4 linked regions of the Homo sapiens genome follow. The protein of the gene in region 1 interacts with the protein of each later gene in a pairwise test. Each region holds a gene or a part of one and is shown on either strand. Other genes may lie near its edges. The genes, in order: REL, FAM200C, GRAP and TLX3.

What was found.
Region 2: the proteins of REL (region 1) and FAM200C interact in binary tests that used the Homo sapiens proteins (3 or more experiments, as listed by UniProt).
Region 3: the proteins of REL (region 1) and GRAP interact in binary tests that used the Homo sapiens proteins (3 or more experiments, as listed by UniProt).
Region 4: the proteins of REL (region 1) and TLX3 interact in binary tests that used the Homo sapiens proteins (3 or more experiments, as listed by UniProt).

What each region holds. Positions count from the first base shown.
Region 1 is NC_000002.12:60,919,574-60,926,573, reverse strand, and holds part of REL (proto-oncogene c-Rel), read right to left. Parts: intron 6,534-7,000; coding exon 6,465-6,533; intron 6,192-6,464; coding exon of another isoform or gene 6,096-6,191; intron 6,001-6,095; coding exon 5,932-6,000; intron 4,812-5,931; coding exon 4,039-4,811; 3' UTR 1-4,038. UniProt on the Homo sapiens protein: Proto-oncogene that may play a role in differentiation and lymphopoiesis.
Region 2 is NC_000005.10:160,397,043-160,404,394, forward strand, and holds the start of FAM200C (protein FAM200C), read right to left. Parts: upstream 3,013-7,352; 5' UTR 2,597-3,012; intron 474-2,596; exon of another isoform or gene 400-473; intron 1-399. Other genes in the region: pre-mRNA-splicing factor SLU7, read right to left, coding at 6,243-6,422.
Region 3 is NC_000017.11:19,022,944-19,029,975, forward strand, and holds part of GRAP (GRB2-related adapter protein), read right to left. Parts: intron 1,551-7,032; coding exon of another isoform or gene 1,466-1,550; exon of another isoform or gene 1,447-1,465; intron 1,441-1,446; coding exon 1,272-1,440; intron 1-1,271. UniProt on the Homo sapiens protein: Couples signals from receptor and cytoplasmic tyrosine kinases to the Ras signaling pathway. Plays a role in the inner ear and in hearing.
Region 4 is NC_000005.10:171,304,695-171,312,256, forward strand, and holds TLX3 (T-cell leukemia homeobox protein 3), read left to right. Parts: upstream 1-4,553; 5' UTR 4,554-4,671; coding exon 4,672-5,092; intron 5,093-5,455; coding exon 5,456-5,699; intron 5,700-6,694; coding exon 6,695-6,905; 3' UTR 6,906-7,445; downstream 7,446-7,562.

The sequences.
Region 1 (7,000 bases):
CCAACTGAGGGGAGGGGTCAAGACTCATGGGAAATAAATCTCAGGGAGGAATCTTGACTACCACAGAAAACCCAGAGGAGTATGCAAAGAGGGAAGTATAGGAGGTTATACATAGGTCAAGCAGTGTGAGGACTGAAAAAAAGACACTAGATTTGACAAGGCGGGCAGTCTCCGCTCATCTTTCCCAGAATATCCTAAGAAAATTGTAGGAGCTAAAGACAGAGATGGCTGGGCTAAGGAATAACTGGGAAGGGAGAAAATGGAGGCTGGAGGCATTTCAGAAGTCAGGATGCAAATGCATCCAAGTGGTAGGAAAGGTTTTATTTGGTCTTTCCTTTTAGGCTAATGAAGACATTTACCATGTTTATACAAAGAAAGGAATCACTAAGTGGTGATGTAAGGATAAAGTAAACACAGCCTGGCAGAGAAAGGAGGAGGGATCCAGTGCACAAGTAGAGTTCAGAAAAAGTGCCTCAGATACTAAAAGCAGGTGTTAAAAGAGCAGGTGAAAGCATGAATATATGTAGAGACAGAGGAGAAACGTTACCAAATTCATTTTAAATTAAAGTCTATACAGGGTCAAAAAATAGCACCTGAAAAATGAAAAATCCATTGGGAATATTCTACACACAGAGGTAGCAGAACCTTAATTCTGCTTACACCGCAAAACTAGCCAACACTTATTTAGTTTTAAAAAAATATTCTAAACACAGATGTAGCAGAACCTTAATTCGGCTTATACTTACTTATACTAAGTAGCCAACGCTTAATTAGTTTAAAGAAAAAAACCCATGCAGCTATTCTAACAGTCAGTGTTTAAACTGATTGGTGCTAATTAATCCAAAACTATGAGATTCTGTATTAAAAAAAAAAAAAATCTCCCCACCTATCATCCATCATCATCTAGAGACATCCTGGGTTCACATTTTGAACAGAAAAGAAATTGTGCCTTCAGGTTTTTCTTTCTCCCTGGTAAGTTCTATTTATGTGCTTATGATTTTAAAAATTTATTTTAATTTATATTTTTAAGTAAAAAAATTACTTTCTACCTTTTTTATTGAATTCTATGATTCTTGTGAGATTTCATAATGGCTGCTCATGAAAAATTTATAATACAGAAATATTTCCTTTTGAAATAATAATTTCTGAGGAATATTAATGGTACTCAGGGGTCTTTCTTTTTTTTTCTTCCTGAACCATCCTGAGCCCAAGTCTCACTTTGCTGTCTTCCCTATTTCCCAGTATCATTTAACTGAGAATTTTTGTTTTTATGGCATTCACACATTTTTCTATTTGACCGAAACGACTAGTTTATGTAAAGTTATGGTTTGGTTAGACATCGTGTAAGTAAAATGACAGACTGTTTCTTGCTAGGAAGATATTCAACATTTAGGGCAGGTTCTAGTTGTAAAACAAACTAGGTAAAGTTAATTACTTAGCATAATGATAATTCCATCATAATTAAGATTACTGCCCAACTTTAATCTGTAATAATAAAATATAATGATCTAATTAACCCTTACAATGTCTTTGGGAAATAAAAGGGCAAAATAAATAATTATATATCAAATGAAAACTCCAAAATATAACTACGTTTTGAAGCAAAGTGAAAGGTTTCTAAATGCCAGAATTACCAAAAGTCACGAAACACAAACAGCAAATAAAGTGTAATGTTACAGCTATAACAACTCACATAAAGTATGCAGAAACAACTAGGAAACACTGAGAATTTTAAATCTGATTAAGGAGCTAGTAGAGATTACCCAGCATTCAGCTCACCATTTGAAACCAGCCAAATGAATATGTGACAAGTCTCTTTTAAAAATCTTGCACTTTGAAAAGGAAATGTGTTATAAGTGTTACTCAATCTGGAAGTTGCAATGAGCTTGACAATGTCAAAACATGGATTTAGAGATTCTCAATGAACCTCTAATGTTTTACCTTCAATAAAATCTCTTTTCATAAAAGGAAAAAAAAGATTACCCAAATTCTACCATCATTTTGCCACTGGGATTATTTTCCTTTCAAACAATTTGGATGACCATTATTATTCCTGGACTTGAATGTACACGATTCTCATAAACCCAATGTCACACTAAGTAAAACTGCAAAAATCATATACGTCTTATAATTAAAGTTATTATTTCTTTCAAAAACCAAAGTTCTATTAGTAATACTTTTAATGTTCAATAAACATTTACTGAGTGTTTAATATAAGGTAGGCATTTTTCTACAAATTGGAGATTCAACAATAAAGCACAAAAATTTCTGTCCTTAGAAAGTTTATATTTCGGTATGGGAAAACAAACAGTAAATGAATAAATACTTAGTAAAGTCAGATCGTGGTGAGTGCTATGGACATACATAAAGCAGGGGGGAAAGGGAATGCTGATGTATATATTCAAGGACGACCTGCTCAGGTAACAGTGGAGTGACACCTGAAGGATGTAAGAGTGAACTATGCATTTTTCTGGGAGAACAACATTCAAGGCAGAGGGAATACCAAGTACAGACTGTCCAAGGCAAGTGCATACTTGATGCTTTGAGGAGCACTGAGGCCAAGGTGCCTGGAGCTGCATGAGGAGGTGGGATATGGTGGTACCTGAGGTAGGACAGGGAGTCTAGGCCTGCAACTTTTAAGGACTTTGACTGCTCTGAGTGAGATGAGAAGCCAATGAATGGTTTTGAGCAGATGAATGGTATGAGTTGACTTGTTTTAAAAATAATCATTCTGGCTACTTTATGGGGAACAGACTGTAGGAATGCAAGGATATAAGAAGAATTTTTGTAGATGACAGCTTCAATCCAGGGAAGAGATGATGGTGGCTTGGAATAGGGCGTTAATAGTAGAGGTCAAAAGAGGTGGTCAGCTTTAGATATATTGTGAAGGTAGGGTCTACCAGATTTGCTAATGGATTGGATATGGGTGCTAAAAGAAGAATCAAGGATGACTTCAGGGTTTTTGGCCTGAGCAACCAGAAGTATGGCATTGCCATTTACTGAGTTGGAGAAGACTGAAGGAGAAGCAAGTTTGGGAGGGAAGACCAAGAATTCAGTTTTGGATATGCTGAGTGTGAGCTTTAATTAGATTTCTAGATAGAGATGTCAAATAGGCAGTTTTATGAGATCACAGGGAGTGAGGACATCTAAGAAAGGCGAATGGTCCAAGGAAACTTCTTCCCCTTAAAAAATGAGTGTACAGCTAAAATCATAAGCAACTTTAAAGGCATAGATTGAAATAGTATAAAATGTAGAAAACCTCCCATACCTTGAAAGCTCACTTCAACTGCCTTCTGCCCAACTTAACATTTTAAAGACATTTTGATATACATACAAATCTAAGCTCCAAGAAGCCTAAGAAAACCCCTTAGGGGTTACCTTGGCCCATGGGCCTCAAAAATAAAAAATTAAGTTTTTCAATGGCATAGCCATTACAAGTTTTATCTTAAATTTGCTTGAAATTTAAGAATACATTAAAACATTATAAAAAGAAATATAAAAAAGTGTGTTTTTTTTGTTTTTTTTTTTTTGAGACAGAGTCTCACTCTGTCACCCAGGCTGGAGTGCGGTGGTGTGATCTCAGCTCACTGCAACCTCTGCTTCCTGGGTTCAAACAATTATTGTGCCTCAGCCTCCCAAGTAGCTGACAGTACAGGCACGTACCACCATGCTCAGCTAATTTTTGTATTTTTAGTAGAGACGGGGTTTCACCATGTTGGCCAGGCTGGTCTCGAATTCCTGGTCTCAAGTGATCCACCCGCCTTGGCCTCCCAAAGTGCTAGGATTACAGGTGTGAGCCCCTGCGCCTGGCCTCTGAGTTGTCTTTTTATGACAGCTTCCAATTTTGTATTCGCTATGTCCAAAGTTGTATGCTTCTTCCCTGAAAAAAGTTTTTTATATTCTCAAATACAGTATTATATTCTCAGTCAGTATTATATATACAGTATAAATATAGTATTATATCCCCAGTTAGACAAATACAAAATGCTGCATCTATATAGGTGGTATCAAGATTTAAAAGGATTTAAATCTTGCAAGTTATACTTGAAAAAATTCATATGGAAAGGAGTCACTCAATTGCTCATTTTGCATACTGCCAATACCTGAATACTGACTATCTTGAACAAAACCATGACTGTTTGGATTAGTACTGTTTGATGGTCCCGACTCATTTATCATGCTGTTATCTGCACAACTGAAGTCAGATCCCTCAAATGCATCTGATTGTGAAACAAAAACAGTAGTATTGGAATTGGCGCCTGCTGACATACTGGAAGAGGACATCTGATGGAGCTGTCTCAAGTCTCTTGGGTCTAACACTGAATTACATGAGGGGTTTTCAAGATTCATGCTCAGAAGTCTTGGATTATCAGTCTCTCCCATGCTGTCACTGCTGGTTGTCATCATATTCACAGAACAATTAGACAGCATGTTGGGATCAGAAATACCATATAAATCTGCTGATGGCATGGATGACGCTTCCATTCCGACTATGTCATCGGCATTGTTGTAAATGCAAGCATTAGAAGCATTTAAATCATTCCCAACAGGTATTCTCAGGAATGGTGGGATACCTTGCGAATTAGAAGGAAGTGTCCTTGTTGAAAAACTACTCAGTGGGTTTGTATTGCCTGAGCGTGGGGTGGGGTGGGCCACTGATGACCAGCTTGAAGAAGGCAGAGGTGCCATTGAGGCATGATGTGACAATCCACTTGAGATGGGCCCAGGTGAGGGATAGTAGGATTCTGCTTGACTTGAAACCCCTGTAGGCATTTCTCTCACAACTGCATCATGAGAAAACAAGTTTGGTTCTGTGGGAGGAAAAATTTATTTTACGAAATTAAAATGAACAAAATTATAAAAAGCATTTCTAAATTAAAATTGCATAAGCACACAAATATATATAAAGAAAAATGTCAAGGAAACCAATGTAACATTTCAAATAAAAAAATGTAAAAAGCACTAAAATTATTACACGAATCCAAAATGAAATTCTGTAACGTATATACCATTTTACAAATACAGGTAAAATGATTTTGGCAAGTTACTTTGGCATATGTAATTTCACTTCAATTAAATATGAAAATCTAGTTTCTGAGGCTCTATAAAGGTATTTTTGAAAACTAAAAGATAAATATTAGAATTACAATTAATGGGATTCCAAATAGCCAAAATCATCTCTTACTCTTCACTTTTAGGAGAAAATGGAAGGATGGAGACAACACTCATTAGGGATAAGAAAATACACATAACTTTTAAGATATATTACAACAGAACCCTAAGAGACTATAAAATTCACAGTCAGAAAAAAATTACAGAAAAAATTAATTCTGTATCTATTTACATATTATACAAATGCTTTACAAACTAAACCAGGAAAAAGCAATGATTTAAGAATGTACGTGGGGGAAAAAAGACTTCTTCTAATTAGCCCTCGGTTGAATTACCTAAACTAGGGATTGGCAATTTTTTTTTCTGTAAAAAGTCAGATTGTAAATATTTTAGGCTTTGTGAGCTATATACAGCCTCTGTTGGAACTATTCAACCCTGTTGCCATAGTGTTAAAAAAAAAAAGCAGTTTAGAGATAATATTTAATCAAATATTCATGGCCGTGTTCCAGTAAAATGTTATTTATAAAAACAGGTAACTAACCAAATCAGTAACATTTTTTCATAACGCAATGTAATTAATAAAATTGCTACCATATGAACAACATGTAATTTCTTGAACAATAAATCCCAAAAACATAATCAGTTTCTAACACAACCTTCAGAAGCCATGCTTAATTCATTCTATACTGAAAGCATGAAAAATCTGGAGAGAAAATTTTCAAAGAAGCAGTTATTCATTCCTAAAAATAGAATTCCAATATATTGTGCAAAGTACTGGTCTTTCTGATCACAAGAAATATGCTATAGGAAATAAAATACCTTTTTTGAAGTATCTTCCTTCTCCAATTGAACCGAGGAGACCAGGTCTTGGTCTCTCAGGAAAATTAACTGTTAGGATAAAGTTTTTCCATTATTAAATGTCATTTGAAAAATAACATTATCAGTTAAAATCTGAAAAACTGGCCGGGCGTGGTGGCTCCCACCTGTAATCCCAGCACTTTGGGAGGCCAAGGTGGGTGGATCACCTGATGTCAGGAGTTCAAGACCATCCTGGTCAACATGGCGAAACCCTGTTTCTACTAAAAATACAAAAATTAGCCGGGTGTGGTGGCACATGCCTGTAATCTCAGCTACCCGGGAGGCTGAGGCAGGAGAATTGTTGAACCTGGGGGGCAGAGGTTGCAGTGAGTTGAGATTGCCCTACTGCACTCCAGCCTGGGTGACAGAGAGAGATGCTATCTCAAAAAACAAACAAACAACAAAACAAAACAAAAATAATAAAATTTGAAAAACTGAATAAAGTAAATAAAACAAAACCTATTTAAATATGAATCGATCCAAACTATTCTTACCGTGATCCTGGCACAGTTTCTGGAAAAGCAGAGTTGTCTTTTGTTTCTTTGCTTTATTGCCGTAAGTATCTGATTAGAAAGAAACCAGGAAAGCAGATAAAAAATTATAGGATTGTATCCTCTCCTTTAATAAACAAATATTTTATTCACATATAGAAAATGTTTTCAATAAATATGTATGTAAGTTGGATTTAATAAGTATTATAGAATATGTCCCAAATCAGTAGTATCAGTAGAAAAGGATATTTTTCTCTTAGTAAAAAATTGTTTAAAGTAATCTCAGCACTTTGGGAGGCTGAGGCAGGTGGATCACTTGAGCGCAGGAGTTTGAGGCCAACCTAAGCAACATGACAAAACCCTGTCTCCATAAAAAAACAGAAAAATTGGCCAGGCGCAGTGGCTCATACCTGCAATCCCAGCACTTTGGGAGGCTGAGGTGGGTGAATCACCTGAGGTCAGGAGTTTGAGACCAGCCTGGCCAACATGGTGAAACCCCATCTCTACTAAAAATACAAAATGAGTCGGGTGTGGTGGCG
Region 2 (7,352 bases), on another chromosome or scaffold:
ATCTGTGACAAGAGACACCATATCATCACAATCACTGGGAAACCCTTTCAAAATATACACGTCCCTGCACTACCTTAGAACTAATACATATCTTCTCCAGAAGCAGAACAAAAGAATATGAAATAATGTTGTTCAGGCAGTCCTGAAACACAACCTGGTTAAGTAGTCAGGCTTAGGGGAATAAAAACGTATCCTTCAAACCAATCCTTAGCTAACAAATATTCTAGGTTTCTAAGTGAATGGTCCCAATGCTTTAATAGATATTTAAATTTTCTACATTTTCTGAGTTGATGACAGCCTCCTATGAAAGTTGAAACCTAAAATGAAAGCCATATCTTTTCTCTTTCTCTCCCTTTAGCAACGAGTAAAGGCATAATCCACAGGTAGGCTCAAATATACCTTAGAAAACATTCTATCTCCAAGATAAGTAAGTGATCCCCAAAGTTTCCAAAGTTCTGTGCCAGAGAATGTGGCTGAAATAAAGTAACAGGTACACATTTAAATCTGAATGCCCACTTTGGACATTAAAAGAAAAATCACAAGCCAAGAATATCCACTTAAAGCATTAGCTTTCAAGTGGATCTACCAAGATGAACTAGTTGTAAAGTGTACTCCAATAAAATAAGCTGAGCTGTTACAAGGTTGTTATGAGCCTGTTAAATTGGAGGATGTCTGCCAATCAAAAAAGACAACCTGAAGTTTAAAGAGCTGATCTTAAGACTTCTTTTGTCAAGTAATGAGACTACATGACCACTTTTGCTTAGAACCACTTCTAATTAATGACGATAAAATTATGACATTACCATAAATGCTTATTTTTCTGTATTCTATTAATGTATATTTATCATGTAATATTTGGGGAGGAAGAGGGAATAAAGGAAAATGTTTTTAGTCACATTAGAAATCATTACAAGAGGGGCCCTGCACGGTGGCTCACGCCTGCTACCCCAGCACTTTGGGAAGCCAAGGCGGGCAGATCACTTGAGGTCAGGAGTTCCAGACCAGCCAGGCCAACATAGTGAAACTCTGTCTCTACTAAAAATACAAAAATTAGCTGGGTGTGGTGGCGCATGCCTGTAGTCCCATCTACTCGGGAGGCTGAGGCAGGAGAATCGCTTGAACCCAGGGGGCAGAGGTTGCTGTGAGCTGAGATCATTGCAGTGAGCTGAGATCACGCCACTGCACTCCAGCCTGGGTGACACAGCCAGACTCTGTCTCAAAAAAAGGCTGGGTACGGTGGCTCATGTCCATAATCCCAGCACTTTGGGAGGCCGAGGAAGGCGGATCACCTGAGGTCAGGAGTTTGAGACTGGCCCTGCCAACTTGGCGAAACCTCGTCTCTACTAAAAATACAAAAATTAGCTGTGCATGGTGATCCCAGCTACTGGAGAGGCTGATGCAGGAGAATCGCTTGATCTGGGAGGCAGAGGTTGCAGTGAGCCGAGATGATGCCACTGCGCTCTCCAGACTGGGTGACGGAGTGAGACTCTGTCTCAAAAACAAAACAAACTGGAAATCATTACAAGATCTGTTAAGAGTCCATTCCTATCCACCTTGACTATGTCTCTCAAGTATATTTTAATTTAAAATTTATCTGTTTTGAACAGTTTTAGGAAAATCAATTTAAAGTATTCTTCTCCATAACCCTCAAAAAGGGAGAACAGGTGGCAAGAATTTTCAAGGGCCTCAAAGATGAACTTACTGCCCAAGAGGCTTGTGTTTTAGAACCTCACAATTTGCACTTGCGCTTTTGTGGTATTTAGGAATTACAATATCCTAAAAAACGTAAACATTAAAAAGCATCATGATAAGGAGATATTGTTAAACAGGCATGATAATGGTATTGTGGTTGTGTTTTTAAAAAGTCCTCATTTGTTAGATACAGACAATTATTTACAAGTGAAATAAGATGTCTGGGATTCCTTTGAAATACGTACTTCAGCACACTCACAAACATGCACAAAGCGGGGTGGAGATAAAAGAAATGACTGGCCTTAAGTTGGTAACTCTTGAAGCTGGATGATGGGTATACATCATTACACCGTTCTATTTTAATGTATTTTGGAAACTTTCCATAATAAAAAGATAAAAAGCATTATCTTAAGATAGATATCACTCATTTTAAGCATGATTCTTTTGAGAGATTATCTTCAGATGCTTAATGAAAGATCTGATATAACAAAGTAAAATGTTTTTGCAAGTTTATGAAGGGTAGATATGAAAAAGTATTACAAATGAGAAAAATCAGTTAAAAGTGAACACTCACAAAACAAATATTTAGGGAATGCTAATATATATATATTCCAGCAGTGAAAACACCAAAGTGCAGCTGTAAACCTAAAACTCCAAACCAAATACAATTCAACTTCTTTCTAGCCACTGCGTATGCAAGATCATGATAGGCGCAGGTGTCTGGGGAGGCAGAGCATTTAACCATTACATTTTACAGTTAAAATCAATAGCCAGGAGAATGGGGGCAGGAACTTGGTGGCTGGGCAGACGCTCCAGGGGCAAACGCCTGGGATCGTGGCTTTGTCACTTACAGGATGGGACCTTTCCAAGCCTCAGTTCCTCCAGAGGGGATAACAGTACCTACCTTACAGGGTTGTTAGGAGATTTAATTATAAGAATGCATGCAAATAACAAGCAGCTCTTAACTGATAGGACCTGATGGTGTTACTGTTAAGGACGGAGATTTTTACAGCCTCCCGGGTGAGATAAGAACGCCAGCTGCTAGGAAAAAAAAAAAAAAGACTCAGCGCGGTCTCCGCCCGCCCGTCTCCAAGCCTGAGGCGCAGGCCTATGGGATGCACGGGCTTCTTTTAGGCGCCCGTTTCAGGCTCCAGTCCCACTCTCCGCTCAGCCTAGGGCCCAGCCTCTGGCCGTCGGAACCAGTAGAGACGGCGGTTCCTCGGGTCCAACCCCCGGGCAGGAATCTGCGGTGCGCCTGGAGAGAGAAGCATCCGCAACAACCTCCGCCTCAGCCAGGCCCGGGTTCCATCCGGGTTCTCCAGGGTGCTTCCCGCCCGCAAACTGGGAGAGGCGTCTCCCACACGCAGGCGCAGTAGCAAAGGGCTGTGGGATGGGCTGGCTGGCTTGAGTATTGAGCATGCGCGCTAGCCCTTCCCAATTTTTTTTTTAAGATTGTGTACGTGGAACAAGAAATCGTTTGTTTATTGTGTCTGCCAGAGAGGATGAACTGTACAATTTCAGGAATGGAAGGGGCTGTAAACTCCACATAGTTCTTTTTAACATGCAGAGCACTTAAACTTTTATATTGTGTCGGGCTTTGAGCTTGGAGATAAAACGCCTGATAATTGCCATGTTCCATGTGGAATAAATGAGAGAAAAAGAGAAGGAAGCTCATTGTAATTTCAGATTAGACATTTCAGCAGTGGAGGATGAGCTTCCATAGCTTGTGTACTGTTGCCTATGCAAGCTGATCCCACTTTCCGTAAGTGGGAGCATAGGGATGAATTTCCATGTCATCATCATATATCTGAAATATTTTTATTTTAAATTCTTTCAACAACATGATTTCAAAGAAATAAACCCATATTAGAGAGGTTTTAGAGAAAAATCCCAAGTAGAAACTAGGAAACGTTGTTGAAAGAAACCGGAATATAGCCCTTTCCTGTTTGGGGGTCTTTCCAGAATTCTTATAAACTTAATGAGTTTACTCATTTTTGTACAATCTTGTTAGAAGCATTCCATAAGACTAGTGTGTGTGAGGAGTGGTGGGGCGTCAACGAATGTGGGCCAGATACATCATTTTCAGGTGTTAAGGGTGAGCCTGGTAAATATTGACGGGCTGCTGAAGTTTTTTGTGGATGGAAGAAACTGCTAAAGACCAGCCTTGTTGGTCAAGAAATTAGGGCCTTCAATACTAGAGAAAGGGGTAGGCTTCAGAATCCCACAGCTAGCTTCATGTCCTGACTCCAACGGTTAGGATTTGTGCAGGTTACTTGGAGTTAATTCCATGTGCTTTTTGTAAAACTTACATATCATCCATTACCCCATGAAATTCTTTTGAGGAAGGAGATAACATTATGACAATTACAGTACATAATTCTCGCACTCAAAAGGCAGCTATTATTGAGATAATAAAATCAAAGCTCAATCTGAGTAATGTCCTAGGCATTATGTTTTTTTCTTTTTTTTTTTTTTTTTTTTTTGAGACAGGGTCTCATTCTGTTGCCCAGGCTGGAGAGCAGTGGCGCAATCTCAGCTCACTGTAACTTCTTGAACCGGGTTCAAGCAATTCTCATGCCTCAGCCTCCTGAGTAGCTGGGATTATAGGCGTGTGCCACCATGCCCAGCTAATTTTCGTATTTTTCATAGAGACAGGGCTCTGCTATGTTGGCCAGGCTGGCTAGGCATTACTTTTCCAAAATAAAACAGAAGACATGATTCTGGATATTACAGAATTCTTCCTAAATCTAAGTAAACCAGGCCTCATAGAAGAGGGAAAGAGGTCCAGAAAGGTTAGGTGACAAGATGCTGAAATTTTCTTAAACTCACAGAAGCTAATCCAGGTTCCCCTCCCTGTCCCATAAACAACTTTTCTGCCAAATATTAGAAATAATGCTACAAACCACTCACAGTTAAGTATTGTCATTTATGTATCTTTAACAAAAGATAAAATACAAAACGGACACAACATCAGCCTTTATGTTGAACCACCCTGTTTAGGTAGGAAAATGAACATTGTTTTTCATTCTTAAAGTAAATAGGAATTAAATCTATTTGCATTGCTGTTTAATTTCATACCAATCTAAAGCTCGACACTATGTATATCCAAAGTACTTGACAATTTGACTCAGTTACTCACACCACTGTTTCTGAGATGCTGACTTAATGCAGTATCCTACAGGTGGTTTTTGGTAGTTTAGAAAAGCCAGTGAGTGGGCTGTTAAAAGTTGATATACTGATGTCAGAGGTTTTGTTAGGCTGTTTTCACTGATTCTACTGTCAGTATTATCTTCACAGTGTTCTGAGAAGAGGCTTCAGGATCATGGCAATCTATTACTAATATCCCTAGAAGCTATCCTTATAATTCTTTCAATAAACCAACTTCAGGTTTTGTTTTTTTGCAAATTTTACAAACAAAGTAACAGCTGCTGGCTATAAATATTAGGATATTCTACAATTTAAAAAATCTAATATTCATGATTGTTACATAGGGGCAATCACAATGAAAACAAACGGTAATGTAAACCATATCCTCTATGATAAAGGAAAGGATTTCTACACCTAGACTTATGTCCAGAATGGTAAAAGACCTACTACTGATCAGTCAATATTGACCCAATGATGAGAAAATAGTTGTTTTCCATTCAAAGACTAACACATTTAGTCTACTCCAGAGGCCAAGGAAGAGAGAATCGCTTGAGCCCAAGACTGCAGGGCATTATGACTTTGTCTGTGAAAAGCCACTGCTCTCTAGCCTGGGCAACATAGCAAGATCCTGTCTCTAAAAAAAATAAAAATAAATGTAGTCACAGAGTTGCTAGTAATTATTTAAAAAAACAAAGCCCTGTTTTTTTCTCAAAACCAAGGTGTGCTAATACTAAATATAGGGCCACAAAAATCGAAGCAATAAAGTTTGAAGCTTAATAAATACAGAGAAAGAGACATTCTTAATAGGTAGAGAGCCAAGGCTTTTTTACATGACTCACATAAAACTGGAAATAGGCCAGGCGCGGTGGCTCACGCCTGTAATCTCAGCACTTTGGGAGGCTGAGGCGGGTGGATCACAAGGTCAGGAGATCGAGACCATCCTGGCTAACACGATGAAACCGTCTCTACTAAAAATACAAAAAATTAGCTGAGCATGGTGGCGGGCGCCTGTAGTCCCAACTACTAGGGAGGCTGAGGCAGGAGAATGGCGTGAACCTGGGAGGTGGAGCTTGCAGTGAGCCGAGATCGCGCCACCGCACTTCAGCCTGGGCGACAGAGCAAGACTCCGTCTCAAAAAAAAAAATAAATAAATAAAAAAAACTGGAAATAAAATCTTAATCCAATTTTAAATTCTATTCCCAAAAGCACACTTCATGTGCCTCTTCTTCTTTTCTTGTTTCCTCAGTATGGAAAGGAGTGAACTTACTGTGAGGCATCTGAAATATTTATTAAAGCCAGGCAGCAAGAAGAATAAACAAGGATTTTTCTATCTACAATCATCAATAAGAAGCTGAAAAGAATGTATCAGCTGCATCTATCTTGGATGGTCTTCTGACTAGTTGCTACTGTCCAAGGAAAGAGGCCATGGGGTCATCTGGCCTCTGACGTTTCATTCTATATGCCTCCATTTCCTCTTCAGTAGGTTCTCGAGTTTCATACATGCTATTGTAAGGCCGCTTCCTCTCATCAATCTGCATGGTCTCCTTGACATGAAGAAGGCGGGCCTCCTCTGCGTTCAGTGCCTATAGTGAGAGGAATAAAATGTGTATCACAGCTCTACATCAGATGTCTTTTCTTCAAAAGTGGCAGAGTACCAACACACCCCACTGAATATGAACTGCTCTATCAAAAACGCAGATTGCCTGAAAGAGCTTTGGAGTCAGCCCTTCTACTGTCAAGCTACAACTAATCACTATTTGGCTTATATGATATTTTTATACAGCACAAAACATTCTATAACATTTTAAATCAATGTTGAAGAAATTTTATTTAATAACAAAAATTAAATGAGGTTCACTTTACTTATACAAGCTCACAAATGATGCTTCTGGTAGAGACTACAATTCTGACTTTTCTCAAGGACTTGCCAAAACTTACAAACTACGGAGCTAGAAGGCAATTCTTTCCGGTCAACATGCCAATAACTCTAAAATGCTTTAGAATGCACATTTCTTCTGTCCATTAGTCATAATTACTAAATACTCCAAGAAGAAGGCAATACCTACACCTCACAATATCTCCATTAATATAACTTGAGCAAATCACTCAGACTCTAGGCTTGTTTCATCATTGTAAAAATGCATTTGGAGACAGGACTAGATCACAGGCCATTACAAATAAAGGCCTTGACAAATAATACTGGCAAGAACGGTGGCTCATGCCTGCAATCCCAGCACTTTGGGAGGATGAGGTGGGCAGTTCACCTGAGCTCAGAAGTTTGAGACCAGACTGGGCAACATGGTGAAATCCTGGCTCTATAAAAAAATACAGAAATTAGCTGCACATGGGGGCATGTGCCTGTAATACCGGCTACTTGGGACACTGAGGCAGAAGAATTGCTTGAGCCTATGAGGTGGAGCTTGCAGTGAGCTGCGGTCGTGCCACTGCACTCCAGCCTGGACAACAGAGCAAGACCCTGTCTCAAAAAAATAAAAACAACCCAAAAAACAAAG
Region 3 (7,032 bases), on another chromosome or scaffold:
CGAGCCACAGGGTGGGTGACCCCACGGCCCGGGCCAGAGCGAGGTGTTGGGTGTAGGGGAGCTCTCAGTTGCCCCTGCCCTAGCTCCATCCTGGCTTCCTCACACTCTTCCAAGGCAGAGCTGGCCCAGGTGGTGAACAGGGAGGAGGATGGAGATCTGGCAGACAGGAGCCCAGCTGGAGAGAAAAGTGCCCTGAGGCTGGGAGCTCACAGTGACCTGGGCACTCAGGGTCAGGCAGGGAAGGCCAACAGAGGAGAAACTAGTGGGGGTCTCTCAAGGCACTGTTTGACTCCCCTGGCATATCAGACCCCAGGGCTCATCCTACTGAACAGAGGGAACACTGAGGGGATGAACTGGCCTCTGATCACATGGAAAGGTGGTGGGGAGGTGCTAGGAACAAGATTTGGCTGGAGCTTCTCTTCAGCGGTTATCAGCCTCTCCCCAGGCCTTGGCCACACTCCCCATCTCCTCTGCAGAGCCCAAGCTCAAGTGTCCCAGGGTCTTGACCTCCAGCCCCAGGCCTTGCCAGCATCCCCGCTCCTGAAGAAAACAGCCTGTTGGGGCTAATAACCCCAGTGGCTATTGTTGGCATCCCAATCAGCTTCAGAGCTGGCCCTTGGGGCTCCTTGATGAAAGGGCTGGCTGGCAAATTGCTGTTATTGCAAGGTCAAGGGGTGGATGACCCCGACCCCCCACCCCCCACCCCCCACCCCGCGGCTTGCCAGGATCTCGCCCACCAGCACTCATGCTGCCCCACACCCAAGGTCAACTCTTCCGCGAGCAGAAACCAGGACTGAGCCTACCAGGTAAGTGTCCTTGGATGAGTCACTGCACTCTCTGAGCCTCGGTTTCCTCATCTGTATAATGGGCATGATGAGGCTCCCAGAGTACAGAGACCAGTTCAGTGCATGGTACCCAGTATGCTCAGTGGGGGTCTGTACCTTCCTTCACTCAATGAACATTTATTGAGCACCTACTGTGTGCCACATGCTATTCTAGGAGCTGAGAACAAGCTAGACAGTTTGTCCCCATGGGATTTTCCTTCTGTCCTTTGCTTTTCTTTCCCTCTTCTCCTTTCCCACCCTTGCAAGTCTCACCATAGCCGCCACCAGGATATAACTTCGAAGCCTGGGCTGGACGCCTCTTGCAATACCAGGCTGCTGGGGAAGTGAGACCAGGCCCGTGCTTGGCCTCAGTGTCAGCATCTCCCCTGCTGCAGATGGCAGGAGGTGCAGAGAGGCTCCCACAGGCCAGCCCCCACCCGCCCCTACCTTGAGCAAGGGCTCCTCGTCGCGCAGGAAGATCTGCCGCTTCTTGGCGATGGTGGTGGTGCGGTAGAAGTCGACCAGCTCGTTGAGGGAGTTGAACTTCTCCTCCCACAGGAAGTACTTCCCCGAGGCCTCACGCAGCACCTTGAAGTGCTGCACCTGGTCTCCATAGCTAGGGGAAAGGACCCGGGGCCACCTCAGGTGGTGGCCGTCCCAGCCTGGCATGGTCCCAGGGGCTCCCGTCTCACTACCACCTGGAACCAGCCTGTCTCACGGTGGGACCTGGAGTCAGATAAGGTGCAAGTGGGAGAGGCCCCACTGACCCAGCTCCACATGGGGTCTGGGGAGTCCCATCTGGCAGTGGAATATGGGGTTAATTTAAGGGTGTGGGCTCTGAACCAGGCCACTTTCTCACTGTGTGACCTCATGCAAGTCTCTCAACTTCTCTGAACCTCAGTTTTCTCATAATGATAACATCTCCGTTATGGATAAGTGCACAGTGACTGGCATATTGGCAACGTGAAATGGGTACCTCTGAGTGTGTCGTGATCAGAGAGCATCTCCTTCACATCTCTTTGTTGTTCCCCTCAGCTTGGACCTACTCCCTGCTCCCCTGCTCCTCCCATGCCCCAGAGTCCCTTGGGGAGCAAGTCCTAGACTCATCCTGACTCAGACCAAAGCCTACTGCTATGAGAGGAGCTCAGACCTGTTGAATGTCTCACGTCCTCCCCCTCCCATGAACCTTCCGTGGCTTCTCCCTTGGCCTCAGGGTAAACTCTTAACACTTCAGACTCAAGATCTGGCTCCACTTACATGTCCAGCTTCATTTACTTTATATCCTCTCCGATGAAGCAAGCAGGCCCCTTTCTCTCATTTCCCGTCTGTGCCCTGCCTTCCAGCCAGCCCACTACCGCCAAATCGCCCCGAGTACCTTCTAGCCCAGCGGAGGAGAGAGCCTGCTCTTTCTTTTTTCTTTTCTTTTCTTTTTTTTTTTTTTTGAGGCGGAGTCTCGCTCTGTCACCCAGGCTAGAGTGCAATGGCGCTATCTCGGCTCACTGCAAGCTCCGCCTCCCAGGTTCATGCCATTCTCCTGCCTCAGCCTCCTGAGTAGCTGGGATTACAGGTGCCCGCCACCACGCCCGGCTAATTTTTTGGTATTTTTAGTAGAGACGGGGTTTCACCATCTTGGCCAGGATGGTCTCAAACTCCTGACCTTGTGATCCACCCTCCTCGGCCTCCCAAAGTGCTGGGATTATAGGCGTGAGCCACTGCGCCCAGCCACGGATTTTTCTCTCTCATTTCCCGTCTGTGCCCAGCCTTCCAGCCAGCCCACTATCGCCAAATCGCCCCAAGTACCTTCTAGCCCAGCGGAGGAGAGAGCCTGCTCTTTCTTTTTTCTTTTCTTTTTTTTTTTTTTTTGAGGCGTAGTCTCGCTCTGTCACCCAGGCTAGAGTGCAATGGCGCTATCTCGGCTCACTGCAAGCTCCGCCTCCCAGGTTCACGCCATTCTCCTGCCTCAGCCTCCCGAGTAGCTGGGACTACAGGCGCCCACCACCGCGCCCGGCTAATTTTTTTTGTATTTTTAGTAGAGACGGGGTTTCACCGTGTTAGCCAGGATGGTCTCGAACTCCTGACCTCGTGATCCACCCGCCTCAGCCTCCCAAAGTGCTGGGATTACAGGCGTGAGCCACCGCACCCAGCCGAGCCTGCTCTTTCAAACTGGCCAGAGGCAGAGCCTGTCCTGGCTGGGACTGGGCAGAGGAACTAACTGGAACCTCTCACACTCGGCGTGTCCACCCAGGACAGGCCTTGTGGGGCTGGGACTGGAGGCGGTGCAGCTGTGGGTCAAGATCATGGCAGACATGACTGCAGCGCTGCCCCGCTGTGCTTCGGGGGTGGCTGGCCTGCCTCACGGCCCAGGAGGAGCAAATTGGGCCCTATGTTTCAGTTTCTCCACCAGTCATCCCTGGGGCAGCTTGCTGCTTTATTGATGTTTTAAGATGAAAGATTTCAGATAAAGATGTGTTCAAGGCCGGGCGCGGTGGCTCATGCCTGTAATTCCAGCACTTTGGGAGGCCGAGGCGGGCGGATCAAGAGGTCAGGAGATCGAGACCATCCTGGCTAAACCCCATCTCTACTAAAAAACAAAAAAAAATTAGCCAGACGTGGTGGCGGGTGCCTGTAGTCCCAGCTACTCCAGAGGCTGAGGCGGGAGAATGGCATGAACCCAGGAGGTGGAGGTTGCAGTGAGCCAAAATCGCGCCACTGCACTCCAGCCTGGGCGACAGAGCAAGACTCTGTCTCTAAAAAAAAAAAAAAGATGTGTTCAAGGTTCCCACCCTCTGATCTGTATGAGGCATAGGGCAAAACAGGATTCCCCCTACTCCATTCCAGTCAAGGGGTCCAAACCACTTCTAAACACACCTCCAGGCATTTGCACACAGAGTGTCCTCCAGCTAGAGGGAATTTTTCTTGAAATCCTCATGCCCCAGTGGGGAAACTGAGGCCCCGAGTGCAGCCGCGACCTGCCCAGAGCCACAACAGCAAGAAAGGTCAGAGCTGGGGCCACATTTGAGCTCATACATGTAAAACGTTGCCTAATGCCCTCCTGATTGGTTATTATCACATAACAATAGCAATAATAATTATTCCAATTATGCTATTACTATTGTTCCAGAGCTCATCATTCCAAGTCCATTTCTACTTTGCCATGTTGCTACCTGGGCTGTGCCCCCCAGGAGGCCCTCCCTCCCTGCCTCATCCTCTCTGCCTGGCCAAACCTTAGCTACCCTTCCCAGCTCTATAGCCAGCCTGCCTGGACTTAGACCCCAGCCCACCTCTCTGGGCCTCTGCGTCCTGGCCTGCCAAATGTGGGCGATAGTGCACTCCTTGCAAGGGAGCTGAGAGGCCTGGGACCCTGGGGGCTGTGTGGGTGCTGCCAACAGAGCCACCCTAGGCCCACCTGGCTGGGCTAGGGGCTGTGGGGAGAACACAGAACAGTCCCAGCTCCCAACCAGAAAGAAGACAGTTTAGGACCCCGAGGGAGGGCACCTGTTCAGGTGGCTGGCGGAGCTAATAGCTGGGAAAGCCTGGGGCCCTGTGAGCCGGGTGAGGCAGGGTAGGGGCACAGGATGGCCACTGGGAGGTAGATAGCCCCTCAGCCTCCTGAGCCACAGGCTAGGGATCTTTTTGTTCACATTTGGGCTAAATGAGATCCAACCACCAGTCCAAAGCACTTGATGCCTTGATGGGACACATGCGCGCGCGCGCGCGCACACACACACACACACACACACACACACACACACACACACCCCTACCTCTCCTGGGTTGTAAATTGAAATCTGGTTAAACAATTTGGTCGCAATACATTTGCAAGCTTGGGTTCACCCACAGCCTGAGTTCCTTCAGGTCTATGGTTCTCCTGAACAAGAGGGTGGTGTCTGTCACCCCAGCTGCCCAGATCTGCTGCTCCATCTGTCCTATCCCTGCCTGTGGTTGAGTTTCTCCACCAGTCATCCCTGGGGTGGCTTCCTTCCTTATTGATGTTTTAAGATGAAAGATTTAAGATAAAGATGTGTTCAAGTTTCCCACCCTCTGGTCTGTATGAGGCGTAGGGCAAAATGGGATTCCCCCTACTCCATTACAGTCAAGGGGTCCAAACCACTTCTCCCTTTTTTTTTTTTTTGAGACGGAGTCTCGCCCTGTCACCCAGGCTGGAGTGCAATGGTGCGATCTCGGTTCACTGCAGCCTCCGCCTCCTGGGTTCAAGCGATTATCTCATCTAAGCCTTCCGAGTAGCTGGGATTACAGGCACCTGCCACAACGCCTAGCTAATTTTTGTATTTTTAGTAGCTGGGATTACAGGCACCTGCCACAACGCCTAGCTAATTTTTGTATTTTTAGTAGAGACAGGGTTTCACCATGTTGGCCTGGCTGGTCTCAAACTCCTGACCTTGGGTGATCTGCCCACCTCGGCCTCCCAAAGTGCTGGGATTACAGGTGTGAGCAACGGCGCCCAGCCCCAAACCACTTCTAAATACACCTCCAGGCATTTGCACACAGTATTTCCTCCAACTGGAAGGAATTTTTCTTGAACTCCTACTCATGCCTCAAGGCCCAGGTAAAATGGCGCATCCTGTGAGAGCTGCATCAGACCCCATCACGCAGTCAGGGCCTTCTTGGATCCCTCAGCCCCTCTCATAGCCTTCTTGTAACTTGCTACTCAAAATGACTTGCATATGAGACACTAAAAAGGCAGGGAGGCAGGAGTGGGCCCTGAAGGTCCAGTCTAGCTGGGACTCAGCAAACAGAGCATCACTTTCCAGGTCTTAGGTCCTCATTGCGATGCTTTGTTCTTGAAACCCACTTCTGTTGGTTCTGAACTGGGATTGCAGCCCACCAGGTGTTCTGACCCTGAACCCAGGCTCCGGTGGCCAACCCATTGCTCTAAGATGCATCCAGCCCTCAGGGTCACACAGCCAGAAAGAGAGCTAGTTCATGTGCTCGTGACGCGGAGGTGGGTGTGCAGGCAGATGTGTGTCTCCTGCCCTGTCTGGCCTTCCGAAGCCTCCCAGAGGCTTCCGAGAGGCAGCCTCTGAGCCCCATGACTCCCTAGTGCCACGTGCTAACCAGCCCAGGGTTTACTGAACTTTGGCCGTGGTGCCTGGGGAGGAGCACTGCTTCAAGCAGTGGAGTGACGGTGACCCACAGCTGGGCAGGCGAGAAGCCTGGAGACAGGGATCCCAGTGGCTCCACCTCTGGGGCACCGGGTACCCAGGCAGAAGGCCCTGACTCCCTGTTGGCCCCGAGGAGGGGCCTGCATACAGGTGGCCCCACTCCTCTGGGTGAGGGGACAGAAAGGGTGTGGTGGGTTTGAAAATGATTTCAAACCCAAACGACCACAACTTTGAATTTTATGGTATTTGAAGTTCATCTTTAGATACTTGGAAAGTTATCTAGAGCAGATAGAACGTTATCTGGAGCAGTTCTTTGATCATATAGTAGAGTCAGGGAGTGGAGAACAGGAGATAAGGGAAAGGGAGCCAGGGACCCAGGGATTCTAGGGCTTTCCAACCTGGGAACTGGAGAATTCTCAAATCTGGGAAACGTGCATGTGCCAGCCCCTACCTAGTCTGTGTGTGGCACATACTAGGTGCTCAGTAAATGGCAAATCTTGCCCCTTCTCCCACCTGGTCCAAATGTCCTGCTTTACAGCAGAGGACAGTGAGGCTTGGGTGCAGCCCCTCCTGCTGAGCCAGCCCCTGCCTGAGGCCAAGCGGTGCTGTCTCTGTCATCTCACAGCCCAGCATCCCAGCTGTCACTCCCTCTCCCAGCCTGGCCCTTTTCCCTAGCCTGGCTGGGCTCTTGCTCATGGCCCTCACCAGAAATAATGCCTTTTCCCTTTTCTCTGTCTAGTCTTGACCTTAGCCATCCTTCAAGGCCCAGGTGGAGCCTCAAAGCATTTGAGAATCCCCCAGACTGGGGCTACCCTCTGGGGCCTCTCCAGACCTCATCTCCACTCCCCTTCCCAAGGCCTGTGGGAACTTCAGGGCTTGCAGGAGGAACTGAATCTGAGTCCAGATGGCCCCGGAACCGGGAGGGCTGGATCCAGTGCAGCCGGCTCTGCTGCATGAGCCTCCCAGAGCCAGAGGAGGGAGGGGGCACTGGGATTGTGGGCCTGAGTTGGTGAGAGGAGAGGCTGCTGGAGCCATTCACTTCAGTGGGCAGTGCCGGGGGTGTGAGAGCGTCTCCATTGTGTCTG
Region 4 (7,562 bases), on another chromosome or scaffold:
CCACGCCCTGGACCCAGCCCTGGGACATGGGATCAAATGCCACTAACAGCATTTTGCCCAAAAGGAACTCCCAAGCCAGTAGGGGAGACAAGTGAGCCCCACTATGGCCAGCCCTCACCGCCACTCTTGGGCTCATTCACCCGGACCCTGCACTGCTTCCCCTCCCCACTCAGTCCTGTGACTTAAGAGTCTTTACCACCTACCCCCAAAGAGGGGTGTGAGGTAAAGGGGAATATGTGGGCTTTGTAGTCTAAACAGTCCTGGGTTCAAATCCCAGCTCCACCCCTGTCTACTACATGCCCTTGGACAAGAGACTGTTTCCCTAAGTCAACTGTCCTTGAAGCCTCGTGACCTGCAGTGGGGGGTCCCAAGCAACAGCCGACATCTGAAGGCCTTTTCCTTCCACTGGCTGGCAGAGTCTTGAGACTGATCAGACCTCCTCAGGAAGGTTCTTCCCTAGGTCCTGCCCACTGGGGGAAGCAGTGATGAAGAGCTCAGACTGCTTTGTGCCCACTGTTAGATGGGGAAAGCAAGCCCCTGCACTGGGGAATGGTCCAGGAAATGTGAGTAGGTGCTCAGTAAATATTCGTTGAATAAATAAATGAATGGGCGAATAAATTTCGGCAAGTGTCTTTAGAGCCTCCCATCAGGAAAACTGGAAGGGCCCCTAGGGACTCCTAACTAGGGTGTGTAAGCCAAGAACAGCATGGCAGGTCAGCAACCTGTGACATGGTGTGTGTGCCAAATTATGTGTTTCTGTCTTTTTCTATGGAAGCAGACCACAATATTTTCATCCGTGTTTCAAATAGGGTAGCTGACCCAAATACATTTAAAGTCCTGATTCAGTCTCTACCCCATTTCACAGACAGGGAAATGGAGTCTCATTTCCCTCAGGAAGTCAATGGCAGAATGATCCTGGAGGAACCTGGCCTCCCACAGCTGGGCTCATGGGCCAGCTGGAAATCCCAGCATCTTGCCTGTCATCCCTGAAGCCCCACCCTCTTCTAGATGACTCTCGGCAAAGCCTCCACCAGCTGTACCCCTTTCTTCCAGCTTCTTCTTGGGGAAGAGGAGAGGATGTGCTCCATTCTGAAAGTCTCTCTAGCCCCGGGAATCCTCATCCCCAGTTCTTACAATTCTCATTTCCTAATCTCTTTCAGTGTGTATGCCTCACTGATCAAGTGACAGCAGGTAAATTACAAGGGCAGCAAGAAATTACAACCTCAGGAACACCAAATACATATCAGAACATACCTGGCCAAAACAGTGCTTAGAGGAAAACGTATGCCCTTGAGTGCATTTATTTAAAAAGAAAGAAAATTGACAAATTAAATTTTCAACTCAGCAAAGAAGGAATAAATCTTTTTTTAAACCGCAACATTCACGAAAGAGGTGGCATCTTAAAAGGGGATAATGACATCAAAGGCTTTTTTAAAAACCAACAAAATAACAAACCTTTGGCAAGTATGATCAGGAGAAGGCATGAATGAGCGACACGGGGAATGAGAAGTGGAAGGCATTAGTACAGATTCGTATGAGAGTTGCAAATTCTGAGAGAATCTTCCCACAATGTTACAACAACACATTTGAAAACTCAGATGGAATGGACCATATTCTGGGCACTGGCTTCCAGAGTTGAGCAGGCATCAGAATCACCTGGAGGGCTTGTTAAGCACAGACTGCCGAGTCCTACCCCAGAGTGTCTGATGCCGTAGGTCTGGCGAGGGTCCAATAATTTGCATTTCTAACAAATTCTCCAGTGATGCTGATGCTGCTGCTCTGGAAACACACTCTGAGAACCACTGTCCTAGGGACTAACCAAGTTCCCCCCATTCCTGAGCTGCCTAAGAGCTATCTGGATAGGAAGTGAAAGGAGGCTTATAATTAGTGGCCCAAAGCTCCTTCATCTGTATGACAGGGCTGGACGATGAGGGACCGTGGATCTCAGGAAGCCGGAAGCCAAGCAGTGAAGCAGAGCCCTGACCCGTGCCAGGCTTTACCTGGGGCGCTTATTTAATCCCATGAGGTTTATTTACCAGATGAGAAAACTGAGGCATAAAGAGGATGAATAATTCCCTGAGTCCACAGCTGGTAAACTGAGGTGGGAATCCCATTCTTAAGCACACAAGCTGGGAGCAGCGCTGTGCCACCCACGCCTTAATTCTGTGCCACAAACCTCTGTGCGGTGGGCCTTGTTGTCCTGATTTAACAGTGTCTGAAGTGACAAGGGCAGCCCTGAGTCCCGGGCACTGGAAGCCAGAAGGGAAGTGGAGCTGGTGAGGTGCCAACTCCAGCCCCCAAGTGGGGAGCTGTGCTTCCCTTGAACTCTCAAAGCCTCAATTCCCTCATTAGTGAGAAATTGGGGCCACTAACAGCCCTTTCCTCACAGGGTCATTGTGAAGAATAAATAAGTGTCCACCTCCCTGCCTGGCACAGGCTAGGGTCTCAGCTACAGTAGCTTTATAGTTGTCATTAAAGTTATTATGATATAACCGCCAGAGTTTCACACAGGCACTGCCACAGATGTTATCTCATTTTGTTCTCACAGCCACCCTGGGGGTAGCTGGTGCCCTTTTTGTTTTACAAATAAGGAAAATGCGGTTCTGGGAGGGGCGGTTAGGGACCCACACTGCCAGTGGCAGAGCCTGAATTAGAAGCAGGAGGCCCCCTGGAGCCAGGGCAATGGCATCTACCCCATCTGAGGGTCGTTGTCGCTGGAAGGGAGTGAGGGAGCACTTGCCCAGACCCCAGACATCCTGCAGCTCTCACTCCTCACTGTTGGGCCTCCCTCTCCACACCCACCAGGAAGGCTTAGCAAGGGCCAGGAATTTGCCCAAGGTCACACAGCGGGCAAGTGACCTAACTCCAGACCCAGGCCTGGAGGCCCTGCAAATCCTGACGCCTTTGGATTGTTGGGAGAAGAGAGAAAGAATCCCCAACCTGCACCTCCTGTCTTTCCCCGTCCTCTGAAACTGACCCTACTGGTAGACAAATACACCTTTCTCTCCAACGTACTGAGCCCCTGCAAATAAAATTAAACTGCCAACAAAATAAACAAGAGTCACAACAATAATACATCAGCCATTACTCTGGGGGGATAGAGTGGGAGGTGAGCCACGCTGCCCAGTGCCTACTACGTGCCAGGCCCAGTGCTCTGCGCTCCCTCAATATCTCACTCGCGGCTCACGAACAACCCGCATGCATGCATTATTTTCCTTTTTTGCAAACGAGAAAACCGAAATCTAAATATATAGAGTCAATTTCTCAAGGTCACTCAGCGAGGAAATGGCCAGTCCAAATTTGAACACACTTCTGGCCAACAACAGCACATCCGAGCTCTCACCACTGTCCACACCACAAGGAGCGGGAGGAAGAACCCAGGCCAGGGGTGCGACACTCAAAGAGTTTGCACCTAACGATTTTAGAATTCGCTGGAAGAAAATGATTCCGCTTGTCTCCCCAAAGCTGCAGCGGAAGGTGACTACTTCGTGTGCGGTCCTGTCCACGGTGCCCTGGGCCGGGTAGACAGTCACTGAGGCGCGAGCAGAACGGGGAGTGGTTCCAGCGCCCAAAGTGGACTGGAGCCGGGAAGGGCTCACCAGTCGCGTTTCCCAAAGAAATCCCGCAATTTGCTCTAGGAGCTGCCCGCGCCTTTGACATTCAGGAACCCGAAGTCCCTAGACCCGCCGAGCCGCGAGCGGGTTCCCACGCGCGACCACAGCCCCCTTCCATCCTGCAACGAATTACGAGAGTCAGGTCCCCGCTCCCCACCGGGCGACCCCGCGTCCCTAGCCCAGCCGCAGCTGGCACGCGTGGGCACCTGCGAGTCACGCCTCGGTCCGCCTGGCCGGAGCCAGGGAGTGTCTCCAAAGTGGCCGCGAGGCCGCGGCCGAAACCCGGGCGGGGGCGAATTCTCCCCACGCGGGTCGGCGTCATCCGGGGCGCGGAGAACGCTACGGTGCTCCCCTCGCCCCGCGCGCAGGCAGCGCGAAGCCTGCCCCGGGTAGTGCGCCCCTTTCGTTCCTCCGGCGGCGGTAGCGTCCAAGGGGCTTCTGCGGATTCCGCCGGGTCGTCCCGGGGTTGCAACTCCATTGTACCTGAAAGGATGCATTTGGTTTGGCTTTTGCTCAGATGAAAAAAAAAAAAAATTGGAAGAAAACGAAAACCCACTCAGCAAAAGACAATTTCACAAGCGGAGCGCTCTACCCACCCAGCGCGGTGTCTGGGAAGCGGCCCGGCCCGGAGGAGCGGGGAGCGTCTGCTAATTGCAGCTTCGTTAGATTTCGGGTTTGGGAGGCTGTGGTTCGGGCTCTAATATCCGCCGCCCATTATCCCTGCTAATAAATTTGACCTATTGTTCGTTTGTTAAAATGATGTCACCTTGGAACAGTCCCTAAGCTCCTATTTCCATGAATTAGGCCTTTATTGAAAGCCGGGAGCCAATGAGAGGAGAGAGGCTTGTTGATCGCAGCCAATGGCTGCGGCAGGAGAGGAATTAGCAGCGGAAACTCCAGGTTCGGTTCAAGAAAGATGACACAGAGCCTGTCGGGCCCGCGCACTCTTGGCAAAGTTTCAGTGCGACGAGAGGCGCCGGGCGCTCCATGGCCGCGCCGTAACGGGGACCCAGCCGCCTCCCCGCCCAGCCCAGCCCAGCCCTTCCGCCCGCCCAGGATGGAGGCGCCCGCCAGCGCGCAGACCCCGCACCCGCACGAGCCCATCAGCTTCGGCATCGACCAGATCCTTAACAGCCCGGACCAGGACAGCGCACCCGCCCCGCGGGGCCCCGACGGCGCCAGCTACCTGGGAGGGCCCCCCGGGGGCCGTCCGGGCGCCACATACCCGTCTCTGCCCGCCTCCTTTGCGGGCCTCGGCGCGCCCTTCGAGGACGCGGGATCTTACAGTGTGAACCTGAGCCTAGCGCCCGCAGGCGTGATCCGGGTGCCGGCGCACAGGCCGCTGCCCGGGGCCGTGCCACCGCCTCTGCCAAGCGCGCTACCCGCCATGCCCTCCGTGCCCACGGTCTCCAGCCTTGGCGGTCTCAATTTCCCCTGGATGGAGAGCAGCCGCCGCTTCGTGAAAGACCGCTTCACAGGTGAGCAGAGCTGGCGACCAGGCTCCAGGCCTCCGCCCTCTCGGGGCCAGAGGCGCCGCGCCCTGTGCGCTCCACTCCCGGAAACCATTTCAGAGGCCCAAGCGCGGCGGAGGCCTCGGCCCCAGGGCCCCGGGCAGCCGTGGTGGGGAGGGTAATCGGAGAGTTGCAGGAAAATAAGCCCGTGCCCGGGGGAAGGGACAGGGGGCGAGGGGGTCTCCCGACCGGCTTGGTGTCTCTGGAAACGCGCGCGACCAGCGAAATAGCGGAGCTCTCCGTGTCCCACGGGGCGCCACGGGGTCCGCATGGGGCCTGAACGGTGGCGGAGCCGGGCTGGGCTTCAGGGGCCCTCCTGTGTCTCCGCAGCGGCGGCCGCACTCACGCCCTTCACCGTGACCCGGCGCATCGGCCACCCCTACCAGAACCGGACGCCGCCCAAGCGTAAGAAGCCGCGCACGTCCTTTTCCCGGGTGCAGATCTGCGAGCTGGAAAAGCGCTTCCATCGCCAGAAGTACCTGGCCTCTGCCGAGAGGGCGGCGCTCGCCAAGTCCCTCAAAATGACGGACGCGCAGGTCAAGACCTGGTTCCAAAACCGGAGGACCAAGTGGCGGTGAGAGAGGCCTGACCCGGCCCACCTTACACCTGCCCTTCACCTGTCCCGCCCCGAGCCGCAGCCTCGCACTAGCCCTATTTTAAGGCTATCCACTACCCCCGCCCCCCTCTGCCTCCCCCAAACACACCCCCACCCCGCCTTCGCAGATTGTACCTCTTCCTTTCACCCTTCTCGCTGGCCTGTGCTTCTCTCTCCATCGTGGTCTCCCACGCCTTGGTTTCTCCTCCATCCCCATCCCCATCTTTCGTGAGCCCCTCCAACTCTCTCCCCGTGTTTTGTACGGTCTCCTGCGTTCACTTGATTTCCTCTCACCCACCCCCGCCCCAAACACACAGGCACACACACACACACACACACGCGCACACACACGGGCCTCTCGCACTCTCCTTCTCCTCCTTCTTCCAGCCCGCCCTCTCGGATTTTCAACAATCCTCGTGGACGCCGGTTTCCTCTCCCCCCATCTCCGCGTCTCCATTCCAGCCGCGTTTTTATCCGATCTCTGTTTTGATTCAACCCGTAAACGGCGAAGCGATCGCGTCTGGAAAGGGGTTCAAGACAGGCCCTGGGCGAACTGGATGAGACTGACCCAGCCCCCGGGCGTCGTGCGGGTGGTGCAGAGCCAGCCTGCTCACCCGCGGACCCCAGCGACCCCGGTTCCCGCAGGGCCAAGTCAGTTACACATAGGCCCTGCCCTTGCTATCTGGCGAAAGGAACAATCTTTATTGTTGGTGAAGCCACAATACCCGGGCGTGCAGGTGGGCGGCGGGCAGAGTCCCCTCCTGGAGACCCTCTGGCACACAACAAAAACAAATGATCCTAACCGGCTCCCTGGATATAAGAGCCTCGGGCGTAAAGCGCGGGCTGGGAGGCAGACGGGTTCTGCGCCTCGAGGCTCCCGGATGGCCTCGGCTCCCGGGAGGGCCGGGGCCCCGCCGGCGGCCCCGCGGTGCCGGGTGCATGACGGTACTGTCCCTCTCCCTCCCCCGGTGCAGGCGGCAGACGGCGGAGGAGCGGGAGGCGGAGCGGCAGCAGGCGAGCCGGCTCATGCTGCAGCTGCAACACGACGCCTTCCAAAAGAGCCTCAACGACTCCATCCAGCCTGACCCGCTCTGTCTGCACAACTCGTCACTCTTTGCTCTGCAGAATCTGCAGCCCTGGGAGGAGGATAGTTCCAAGGTTCCCGCTGTCACCTCCCTGGTGTGAGCCCACCAGCGCGCACCGTCGCCACGGATCGCCGCCCCCACCCAGCCGGGCGCCCCGGACCCCCCAGGCGGGCTGCGGGGGAACCGGCGCCGAGAGGGGAAGGGGCCGCCTAGCCCGAGTAGGCCCCAGGGCGCGGCCACAGACTGGCGGGCCGCGGAAGGGGGTAGGGCCCGAGCTCCGCGCGGCCGCACAATCCGAGCCCCCGCCCCGCGCCCCGTCCCGCCCCAGGCCCGGGCCTGACAAGAAAGCGCCTTACGTTTCTCCGCCCCCCGCCCGCACCCCCCGGGCCGGGCGCCTGTATTATACTTTGTACTTTTGCCCAAACGTGTAAATAATAAAAAAGTTTTGGCTTTTTTCTTTAGAAACCGGCCACCTGCTTCCCCCGCGGGGGCCGCTGGAGGAAGGGCAGCCGACCCGGCCGCTGGGGGAAGTGCCAGGGGCCCGGGGCACCCTGCGTTTAGGCTGGGTCCACTCTTCTTCTTTTCCGTTCCTTTTATTTAAGTCTTTTTATTTAATAAAAAAGTTAGCTATTTCACTTAACGCCGCTTTTATTTCGTTTTCGTTCCAATAATGCTCGGCGACCCCCGGCCCTGCGCCCCACCCCTGCGGCGGTAGAAGCCGAGCGGCGGCGCGCAGGGCGCGTCCACTTCCGCAACG